Regions from separate parts of the Homo sapiens genome. Here region 2 is linked to region 1. Evidence: fine-mapped expression QTL. A gene starts in region 1. The other region holds a variant in brackets. All regions are shown on one strand. Distances are from middle to middle.

What was found. PIP is the estimated chance that this variant, and not a neighbour inherited with it, causes the effect. A credible set is the group of variants that fine-mapping cannot tell apart.
Region 2: its variant is the best candidate, but not a certain one, in a credible set for the expression of QKI in whole blood (TOPMed, PIP 0.50).

Annotation. Positions count from the first base shown.
Region 1 is chr6:163,411,317-163,416,668 of GRCh38, forward strand. QKI (QKI, KH domain containing RNA binding) reads left to right here and starts at 3,402. Exons shown (of 8, transcript NM_006775.3): 1 at 3,402-4,019. The coding sequence starts at 3,878. LOC124901234 (basic proline-rich protein-like) reads left to right here and starts at 265. Exons shown (of 4, transcript XM_047419614.1): 1 at 265-393; 2 at 1,298-2,769; 3 at 2,933-3,352; 4 at 3,649-3,860. The coding sequence starts at 1,890. The coding sequence ends at 3,860. It overlaps CAHM (colon adenocarcinoma hypermethylated), which reads right to left and starts at 2,634. Exons shown (of 1, transcript NR_037593.1): 1 at 1,749-2,634. RefSeq lists silencers at 2,041-2,820, 2,911-3,730, 3,981-4,030, 4,231-4,420 and enhancers at 2,654-3,306, 3,307-3,960.
Region 2 is chr6:163,354,059-163,359,422 of GRCh38, forward strand. No RefSeq gene overlaps it. Among named protein-coding and RNA genes, the nearest start is that of DKFZp451B082, 9.7 kb to the left of the region's middle. The variant A/C (reference allele first, on the strand shown) is at 2,920.

The DNA of each region.
Region 1 (5,352 bases):
GAAGAAACTCCTTTTTCTCATGGAGCTTACAATGTTGATGCCAGTGGCAAACGAGTTGACCCATTGTTACGTGGAAACAAATGGTATGAAAAGAACCTGGGGTAAGCAGATGGAAGAAGGGAGGAAGTGTTTGCGTGCACAAAGGCGCCATTTTACATAGGGTGTTAAGGGACACCTTCTAAAGATAAATAGGGGCAGGGGTCGCCGATGTATGGGGAAAAGCTTTCCGAGGAGAGCAAACACCAAGGGCAGAGTCCTGGGGAGGGTAAGCATGCTTGGAATATTTAAGGATCCAGACGGATTCCACGGGGGTGCAGCCAAGTGGGCTGTGGGAGGAGAAGGACATAAGGTCAGTGATGCACCAGGGGCACACCTGTCGTCTTGCAGGACTTGGTAAGCTCTTCGGATTTTTTCTTTCTTTCCTTTTTTTTTTTTTTTTTTTTGAGATAAGAAACCATTGAGGGACTGTCAGGAAATGAGGTGATCTACATAGATTTGAAAAGGTAACCTGCCAGGCACGTGGCTCACGCCTGTAATCCCAGCACTTTGGGAGGTTGAGGGGGGCGGATCACCTGAGGTCGGGAGTTCGAGACCAGCCTGACCAACATGGAGAAACCCCCGTCTCTACTAAAAATACAAAATTAGCTAGGCGTGGTGGCGCATGCCTGTAATCCCAGCTGCTCGGGAGGCTGGGGCAGGAGAATCACTTGAACCGGGGAGGCAGAGGTTGCAGTGAGCCGAGATCGCGCCATTGCACTCCAGCCTGGGTGACAAGAGCGAAATTCTGTTTCAAAAAAAAGAAAATTAACACACAGTAGCTATTATCAAATGCTGTAACCGTAAGTGATTTAATACATAGGAAATGAAAATTGCCTATCATTGTTCTTTAATCTGGTTTAAGTGGTTGAGCCTTATGACACTGCCATTTCTATGGGTCAAAAATGGTGGAATATTGTCATAAAATTCAACCTGATTTAAAGGATAGGGCAAGGAAAAAAAGCAAAAAAAAAAAAAAAAGCTTTAGAATAAAATATAATTGGATTATAATCCCAGACACAGGACTCACTAGCTATATTCTTGGGCAAGTTACTTAACTTCATCTTTCTTGGGTTTCCCCTTATTTGTAAAATGGGGATAACAGTCTAACCTAAGCCCAAGTTGTACTGATGATTAAACGAGATATGCATGTAGGGCATTCAGCATAGTGCCTAGGAGCTTAATAAATAAGCAGGCCATTAAGAAGGGGATTGCATCTTTTACACTAGCAGCATCAAAACCTTGATTTTGATTTTTCTAGGTACTGAAACAGCCTTCATTACTTAGAGACCATAGCTTTTTTGCAAGTTACTATTCCCTGCATTTAGAAAGTTCATCTTTAAACAGGCAATTCAGTAAGTAAATATTCTATGGCTCTAAAACAGATACGGCTGTTGGAGACTTTAAAACATCTGACAGTTACATTTTTAATGTTGTCTACCAAGGCTATTACATTTCCTCTGTCAAAGTAACTTAATTTTAAAAACGAACTCTGTGCTTGTTAAACGAAAAGGCCAGAAGGCTACTGGCTACTCAGCGTTCATTTGAAATTCTTATAGTGCCTTCAGTACAATTCAAACTTAGAGGTGATTCTCACAATTCATGTGAAGCAACATTTTACAAAAAAAATCACCTACGTTCACTGTTAAGTCAGAAGACAGAATGATTAACAAAATCTCAGCCGCGAATTACTCTCACGATGGCCAACTGGATATTAAATAACTCTGCATTATTTTAATGGAATGTTATAAAGGATTTGCAACAAAATGCAGACGTAGATTTAGGGACTGCCGACTTCTATAGATCAAGGACTTCATTGGTGCAGCTGAGGAAATTCTTCCAAACAAGTCTAAATGTTGGAAATCCACCAAACTGCAGAGAAAGACCTCTTGCCTCCGTATTCTTTCTTCATCTGTAAAAATGTTGACTTCTGCTTTTCAGACTACGCGCACAGCCTCTTTATTTCCTACTGCGGCTTCATTCCCTCACGGAACACTGACGCCATCGCGAAGGAAGCATTTCGAGCACGACTGACGCTCCCCTTATTATTTGCTAAGCCGCTGCGCTCGGGTCTGGCTACGATTTGCTTTCAGAATAACGGGAAGGTGCAACAAGATCGCTTCCCTAGAGGCGCGTCGCCCGCGTGGCCCGGACCCCCCACGCCCGCCCGCCGCCCCGTGGGTGCGCACGCGTGTCCGCGCAGGCTTCCCGCCTGGCGAGTGCAAGGCTCCTCTCCGCCGTGCTGCTTTCCAGCCTCTCAGCAAATCACGAACACCGAAAGAAGCCACGGCGGCGACGGGAGGGGCGTCGCGCGTGCTTCCCTCGGCGACAAAGCGGGAGCCGGGCGCGCCGGCCGAGGGCGCCCGGCGCAGAGTCCCGCAGAGGCGGACGCCGCGGCACGCGCCTCGAAAAGCCTCAAACTCTTATCCTCGGCTCTCCCGCCCCACCTCCGCCCCGCAGCCAAGACCCGCGCCGTGGCGGGCCCGACGGCCAAGGAAAGCCCACCAGCCCTCCGCACCGTGGGCGACGGGCCAAGACCCGGCCCTAAACGGCCAGACCCAGCCCCTAGTCGGCTGCCGCCCCCGCCCCACGCAGGCGCGCTCCGGGGCCCTCCCCTCCCCCACCGCGCGCTCGCGGGGCCCGACGGGGGCGGAGCGACCCTCGGAAGGGGCGTGGCGACCGGGCTCGACGCGCGCACGCGCTCTGGAGCCCCACGGCTACGTGTCGGGCCACGTGATGCCCACCCCGAAAGTCCCCCGTGAAGCAACAGGACGTTAAAAAAAAATTTCTCTTCTGCGGGGTGGATAAGAGGTTCTGAAAAAACTATAGTAACGGGAGGCGAGGCGGAGGCAGCGCTGGCGCGTCCCGCTGGAATTCCTCTCGCCTGCCGCGCCAGCCCCGACCGCGCCCGCAGCCCCACCCGCCCCGTGCCGTGGAAAGCCCCGCGCCCCCCCCGCGGCCGTCGGCCCCGCAGCCCACACCCACCCGCCCCGGGCGCCCCGCACGGCGGCGACCCAGTCCTTGCGCCCAGGCCCGCCGAGCGCCGCAGTCCGTCACACTCCCGTTGCCCCCGTCGCCCGCCCCGCCGGGGAGGCAGGGAGGAGGGGGCGCGGCGCCGGCGGCTGCCCCGGTCGCGGGGCGGCGGGCAGCAGGCAGCGGGAGCGCGCCGGCCGGGACCCGCTAACGGCCGCCCTGCGCGGCCCCGCCCGCCGCCCGCCCCCGGCCCTCCCCGCGCCGCTGCCCCTCCCCCCGCCGCCGCCGCTGCTGCCGCCGCCGCTGGCAGCGCCGCCTGAACTGAGGCGAACTCCGCCGCCAAGTGAGTGAGGAGGAGGAGGAGGAGAAGGAGGAGGAGGAAGAGGAGGAGCGCAGTCGGAGCGCGGCGGCAGCGGCAGAGGCGCCGCGGCGGGGACCAGCCCAGAGAGACCCCCCGAGCCCGCGGCACAGGCGGCGGCGGCGCTGAGCGGGCTCGACCAGCCGAGCGAGCGGCGGCCCCGGCTCCTCCTCGTCCGGCGCCAGCAGCCCGCGCCCCGCGCCCGCACTCGGCCAGCCGAGACCCGCCTCCCGCCCGCCCGCCGGCCTCGTGAGGGACGCGCCGAGCCGGGCGGCCGAGAGCGGCGGCGGCTGGGAGCGCGTCGGGCCCGGGCGGAAAGTGCCTGCGGGGGGCGGGCGAGCGCGCGGTGCCGGCCGCCCCGGGGCTCGGCGCGGGAGCCAGAGCGGGAGCCGGCGCGGAGCGGGACGCCGGGTCCCGAGCGGCCCGCGGCCGGGGCTCGCCCCCGCCCCTCCCTCCTCTCCGGCGGCGGCGGCGGCGGCGGCGGGCGGAGTGAGCTGCGGAGCCTGGAATATGGTCGGGGAAATGGAAACGAAGGAGAAGCCGAAGCCCACCCCAGATTACCTGATGCAGCTGATGAACGACAAGAAGCTCATGAGCAGCCTGCCCAACTTCTGCGGGATCTTCAACCACCTCGAGCGGCTGCTGGACGAAGGTGAGCGTCTCCAGGGCCCCGGCCCCGGCCCGACCCCCGCCGGGGCGGCCCCTTTCCCCGCTTGGGATGGTGGGGAGGGCGGGAAGGTCACGGCCGGGCGGGACCGAGCGCCGGGGGGACTGGGAGGCCAGGAGGGCGCACAAAGGAGGTGCCGGGCCGGGCTTGCGGCGGGCGGGCGGGCCGGGGTGGACCCGCCGGTGCCGGACGCCCCCTGCCCGGCCGGGACCCCGCGCCGCTGGCGTCCAAGTTGGCGCGTTGCGGAGGGCTGCGGGGTGAGCCCTGCGGCCCCTCTAGCTTCGGCGGTCACATTTCCGAGAGGTCGGCGGGGGCTGCGCGGACTCGGTGGTCCTCGCCGAGCCCTCCCGAGAGCAGGCCCACGCCGCGCCGCCGGCCTGGAGGACGCGTGTGCCCGGCGCGGGCCCCGCTCCTCCGCTCGGCCTCCCGAGCCTGCTCTGCGCGGACCCCCACCGCCCCGCGTTCGGGAGCTCTCCCCTCCCGTGAGGACTAAAGCGGGGTTTCGTGGTTGGGGAGTTGGTGCAGCTGTTCAATACTAAGTGGAAGTCAGTGTGGGGCTCGTTAGTTTAAAGAAATTCCGTAGGAGACCGAAATTATGCTGGCGTAGCCGACAAGGAGGACTAAGTGACGGCGAAAAGCACTTTTTTCCCTTTTGTTTGGGGAAGCGAGAACTGTTAGGGAGTTGAACTTCACTTTTCGGGGGTGGGGGGGGGGGGGGTGGAGTGCGAAATAACGCGATGACAGATCGGAGCGCAGCCTGAGTTAGAAGAACTTGGGCGGAGGGTTTGCTCCCGGGGACGCAGCCGCCTGAGTTTGTAGGACAGGGTTTCGAGACGTTTGGAAAGGGCGAAATAAAATTGAGCCAAAGTTTCCAAAAAGCTGTATGGAGCGCTGTGGGGAGTGAAGAATGACAAGAAGATTAATGTTGACCAACTTTGGAATTTCCTTAAGAAGTTCTCATAGCAGTACCTGAAGTATTAATTTCTAGTAGCTGTGGGTTTCTGTGGACGCCTAGAGAAAAAAAAGACCACAAAAAAAGTCTGTTTCGAAAATCGACTGGCCAGGAGTTTGTTTGTTTTTTTTTCCTGCTTAGAGGCACCACCGGAGGACTGTGTAAAGGAAACTGAAAACTACAGGTTGAAGAGATGAACAATGGAGTTTAGATTTTTCGCAAGAATTTCGAGATTTTAAAAATAGAGTCGGGGAACAGGAGTTTGAAGCTTGGGGAGTTGGAATGTCACTAGAGAACAAAAGGCCGGAAATGTTTCCATGATAAAAAATGGTTAAAGAAAAATCCCAGGAGTTCTGTTGTCTTGAA
Region 2 (5,364 bases), 57 kb before region 1:
TTTGCCAAAACCCAAGTTTAAAAAAACTAAGAAAAATTTGGTAAACTGGAATTCCTGACCTTTCCTAAACATCGTCAGCAATGAGTCTCAGCCCTTATCTTTCTGCCTGAAGAGCTCAGGGCTCTTCAGGGTCAGGAGTGAGGAAACCGGAAGAGGATGAAGAATGCGGGGTGCTAATGAGATCACTTCTGTCCTGTAGTTGGAAACCCGGCAAGAGTCAGAAGATCTGGGGCAAGAAATGAACCGAAATCTTCACTGAGTGCAGCAGCCACAAGCTTGATGACAGAGCCTGTGTATTTCACTCCAAGGCTGCACGTGTCTGTAAGAACGGGCCTCGCCCATCTTATGCAATTTGCATAGGAATCTGAGGAATATCAGCAACTCTATACAATAACTAAACAAATTTTTTTCAGAGTAAAAATTTGTTATGGAGCTTAAATAAAGACTGACAAAACATTGCATTCCTTTTTCCTTGAGCTTCTTTCAGACTAGCGGGCATCAGAATGTATAATAATGGAGCTCTCTTTGGAAAATGGTGACAAGGCTAAGGTTTCTGATTATAGCTACAAATGCTTTAAATAGCGATCATAATTAATTATTAAGAGACGTAGTCTTCCTTTACACATAGAAGACTAAAACCTTAAGGAAAAAATAGGAGATGTCGGTACATGATCTCTTCTAAGGCACTAGAGCTTTACGTGGGATTAATGTCGGTCAGCGTTTTAGGAATGGAGATGTCACTTTTGAGGAAGTGTCTCCAGGAGGTGTACTTGCCCTCACAAAGTCATGATGAAGGAAATGCTGTGCTTTTCTTTGAACTGGTGCTACCCAATGCTGGGGGAAGAGGAGGAAGATCAGACACTTGCTCCGTGTATCTCCTCTCTGTGGTTTGCAGAAGACATGTGCCAGACACAGGAGAAACTGTCTACTCATTAGCAGAGACACTAAAGGGTCTAGACGGTGCCCAACGGGGGTGGCATGTGGTATATAAAGGGGTGAAGAAAGGAATGCAGCTTGCTAGATTCATTTCCCTTTTCGATTTTCGGCAGGCTGACTCTCATTTCCCCAAAGGACATGCAGAGTTGGCATGGAGGCTCCCAGCCTGGCCGGCCCCTGGCAGGAGCTGTGGACAAAACTCTGAAATGTGGGGCTAAATGTTCAGAAACAGCAAATGCTGATAACTCCTCCAGACCTGCTGGCATTCTGCCTCCTGGCCACTCACTCCAACAGCGTGGGAGGACCGGGTAGGGGACAGACTGAGGGAAGCCTGTGCAGGCATTCATGTGTGCAGAAGTACTGGTTTGCACACGCATCTGCGTGTGGCTGTGTAGGCTGTGCTGTGTTAGCAAGAAGAAAGAAGATCACGGAGAGCATTCAGACGCCCTTCAGCTGGACATTCAGCTTTTTCTTCTTCTTCTTTTTCTTCTTCTTCTTTTTCTTCTTCTTCTTCTTCTTCTTTTTTTTTTTTTTTTTTTTTTTTTTGCCTGCTTGGCTGCAAAAGTCCAGAGGAAGTGAATCCACACTTGCTGATGACCTCATTTCCACCGCTTCCCAGCAACCCCGCCAGCCTCTCAGGGGGAGGCTTATTCAGCCAGCCACTGGGGACTGCAGGGAATGGAGACTGGGGAGAGCAGGCCTGCAGCTGCACCCCAATTCCACTCCGCCAACCCCTACTCCCACCTCTCCCATCACGGGTTGCAGCTGGCCTCGTCATTCTTAAGAAAAGGGACTCAGGTGATAGTCAGACCGAGTGATGAGGGATCTAAGCAGACAGGATCCAGCCGACAGGCCGTGGTTGTAAGTTCTGTGCAGAGAGACTGGACTGTGACAGGAACAAGTTTCCTGTGAGCATGCCATGGAAATTAGTCACCCAACAGAATCAGCAAAACATCTATTATTGATGATATTTGCCAAACTGGAGACAAATTGAGTGCTTTGTCCTGAACCAGGGATGATGATATGTGACTTTTATTAAATCAATAGATCAATTTAAAGCCAATAAGTGAACTTCCAGAGATTGATCAAAGCCATGGATAACCCAGGGAGCTGAAAGGTCAACTCCCCACGAAACAGCAGCTTGTGAACAGCGGAGACAGCCTGTGACTTTGCAGAAAGTTAAACACCGCATTCTTTTCCTTTCTCCTCTTATTCCTTCAGTTTCAGAGAAAAGTAGAAACACGCTGTATTGTGCAGCTATGTATGTGGCACGTGCATTGTTTAAAAATGTCATAGGCACTGCTGGACCCTGGGGAGAGAAACTCTGTGACGTTCAAGTGCTTTACACCAACAAGGCCCCTCCAGGCACATTCCCACGTCCTTCAATATTCATATTTGTAATTTGTCGCCCTTATACAGATTAGAAAGTTGAGGTTCCTGGAGGGGCTAAGTGACCATGCTTGAAATGGGAGGGAGAAACGTGAAGCACAGATGTGGGTATGATTCACAAACTTGCTGCCAAGGAAGGCCACAGTGTTGCACACAGGCAGGAGTTCCCCGCGGGCCTGCACTGGATCGGAAGCTGCAGACTTAGAATCGCCTCCGGGTTGGCCCCGCCCCCTCCTGCTTGGCCCCGCCCCCTCCTGCTCCCCGCCCGGTGCCACCCTCCTCCCCAGGCCTCTAGGGTAGAGCCAGCTGGGAACTGTTTCTCTACATACACACAGCACTTGTGTGCACACACACAGAAACACATGCTCACACACACACAGACACACACACGCGCACACGCAAACACATAAACACACACTCCTACATATCACACACTTGCATGCATCATCACACACTCCCATAATCACACACACACACACTCACACACACAAAACCACATAAAAACACACATACACACTCACACCCACAAAACCACATAAAAACACACATACACACTCTCACGCACAAAATCACATTCATACACCATAGATATAC[A/C]CACTAACACACACACAAATACATAACTACATACACACAATCACACATTCACAGACATCATCACACACATACAGACTAACATATACATAAACACGCATAAACACACACATAAAAACATAACACACGCACATAAACATACACACAGAGACACTCATGCACAGACACATAAACACACACTCGCAGACATACACACACAAAAACACACACAGAGACACCCTCATACACTCACACACATAAACACACACAGACACTCATGCACTCTCACAGTAAACACTCCCACACACAGACACTCACGAACACACTCTGTCACACACAGAGAACACAGGGCCATCCCAGCAGCACTCAGTGAAGACTGCGGGGCTGCATCCCGCTCCTCACGCTCACCCCATCCCGCCCTCCTGCGCAGCAGGCTCAGGTCACAATGCAGAGATTGAAAAACGCCATTTTCATGTGAACATTCAGAGAGGAACAGAGAATGTTAGTACAGGACACACAGTGGCAATACTGAAATGAGAAAAAGTACTAGATTCTGCTGGGCATGGTGGCTCATGCCTGCAATCCCAGCCCTTTGGAAGTCTGAGGTGGGTGGATAACTTCAGGTCAGGAGTTCAAGACAAGCCTGGCCAACATGGAAAAACCCCGCCTCCACTGAAAATACAAAAATTAGCTGGGTGAGGTGGCGCATGCCTGTAATCCCAGCTACTAGGGAGGCTGAGGCAGGAGAATCGCTTGAATCCGGGGGGTGGAGGTTGCAGTGAGCCGAGATTGCGCCACTGCACTCCAGCCTGGGCAACAGGAGTGAGACTCCGTCTCAAAAATAAATAAATAAATAAATAAATAAATAAATAAATAAATAAATAAATGAAAAAGTACTAGATTCTGAGAATGGCCTTTCTGTATATTAAAGGAAAAGACATTGCTTGAGGGAGCTTGGTAAGAGTGGCGACCAATCGTGAAGAAGAAAAGGAAATACCATGACAGCTTCTTTTTTTGAGACACAGTCTTGCTCTGTCGCCCGGGCTGGAATGCAGTGGCGCCATCTCTGCTCACCGCAACTTCTGCCTCCCAGGTTCAAGCGAGTCTCCTGCCCCACCCTCCTGAGTAGCTGGGATTACAGGTGCGTGCCACCATGCCCGACTAATTTTTGTATTTTTAGTAAAGACGAGGTTTCACCATGTTGACCTGGCTGGTCTCGAACTCCTGACCTCAGGCGATCCGCCCACCTCGGCCTCCCAAAGTGCTGGGATTACAGGCATGAACCACTGCGCCCGGCCAGACAGCTTCTTTTAAAGCTTGTATCTGGAGAAGGGTATATCTTTGAAGTGTGGGTTGGGTTTACCAAGTACAAACTGTGCTCTGAAAACTTAAAGGCTTTTTTGATAGTGTTATGGAACTCACAGATCAAGGGCACAATGTCGATATTCTATTTCATGCTTGTTCGGCAGGGCCTCTCCTATGGGGCCTTGTGGGGCTCTCTTTGCACAGTTAGCTCACGTTGGCTTGGGTGCATCTCAGGCTGGTGGATCAGGCCCTCAGGTGAGAGGAGGCCACGTGGGTGCTGATCACGCAGACAGTGTGAGTCCTGGTGTCCTGAAGAGATGGCTCCAGGGGCACTGCAGGGTCTGCGTTTGAAACTGTCTACTGTAGAGAAAGATCAAATCCTGATCAGGCAGCACCAACTTTCAGTCAGTCCACCGTGAAGGTCGCACATTTAACAAACTGAAAAATTAACATTTTTAACTGGGCACTCATTGTGTCAAGTAACACTTCATCAAGCTTCGTGTTTAGAAGAAAAGTTGTTCAATTAACACTTTACCGAACTCCTTGTGTATAAATAAGAAGTTGTTAAAGGACTCAGAGCCGGAACCCACAAAGCCTACATTCAAATAAGGTACCGAAAACAAGAATTACAGAAACAGAAGAAACATATTCTTTATGGCTGTTCAGAAATGTCAAGGAGTCGCTAAAATAGCTGGGGTGATGTGGAGGCCTCAAGACAATTTGAATCAAAAGCCTCTTCAAGGAGTGTGAAGAAGAGTGGGAGGGATGTGAGTTTGTGTCCAGGAGAAAGGAGGGAATGCCAAACAGAACATCTCGCATGAAGCAAGCTGAGAGGCAAGAGTGGCAAGTGCCCCGTGACAGGACGAGTTTGGGGAGAAGACAGAAGAGCCAGCTTGGACTTCATCTGCACCTTAGGTGGGAAGGGACTCCAGTGGAGAGCTGTGGAGGTCTGGGCCAAGAGCTGCAGGTTTTATTTGAATGGAAATGACAGACATTGAGACTTCCAAGGAAAATGGTCCAAGGGCCAGGGAAGTTCTGCGGACACAGGATGAGGGAGGGCGTCACCTTCGGAAGTTCTGGAAGTGGAATCACCTGCTGTGCGAATGGGAGATGGAAACAGGTGACGGGAAGCCGCTTCACCGGCGGGTCAGAGACGGGCTGAAT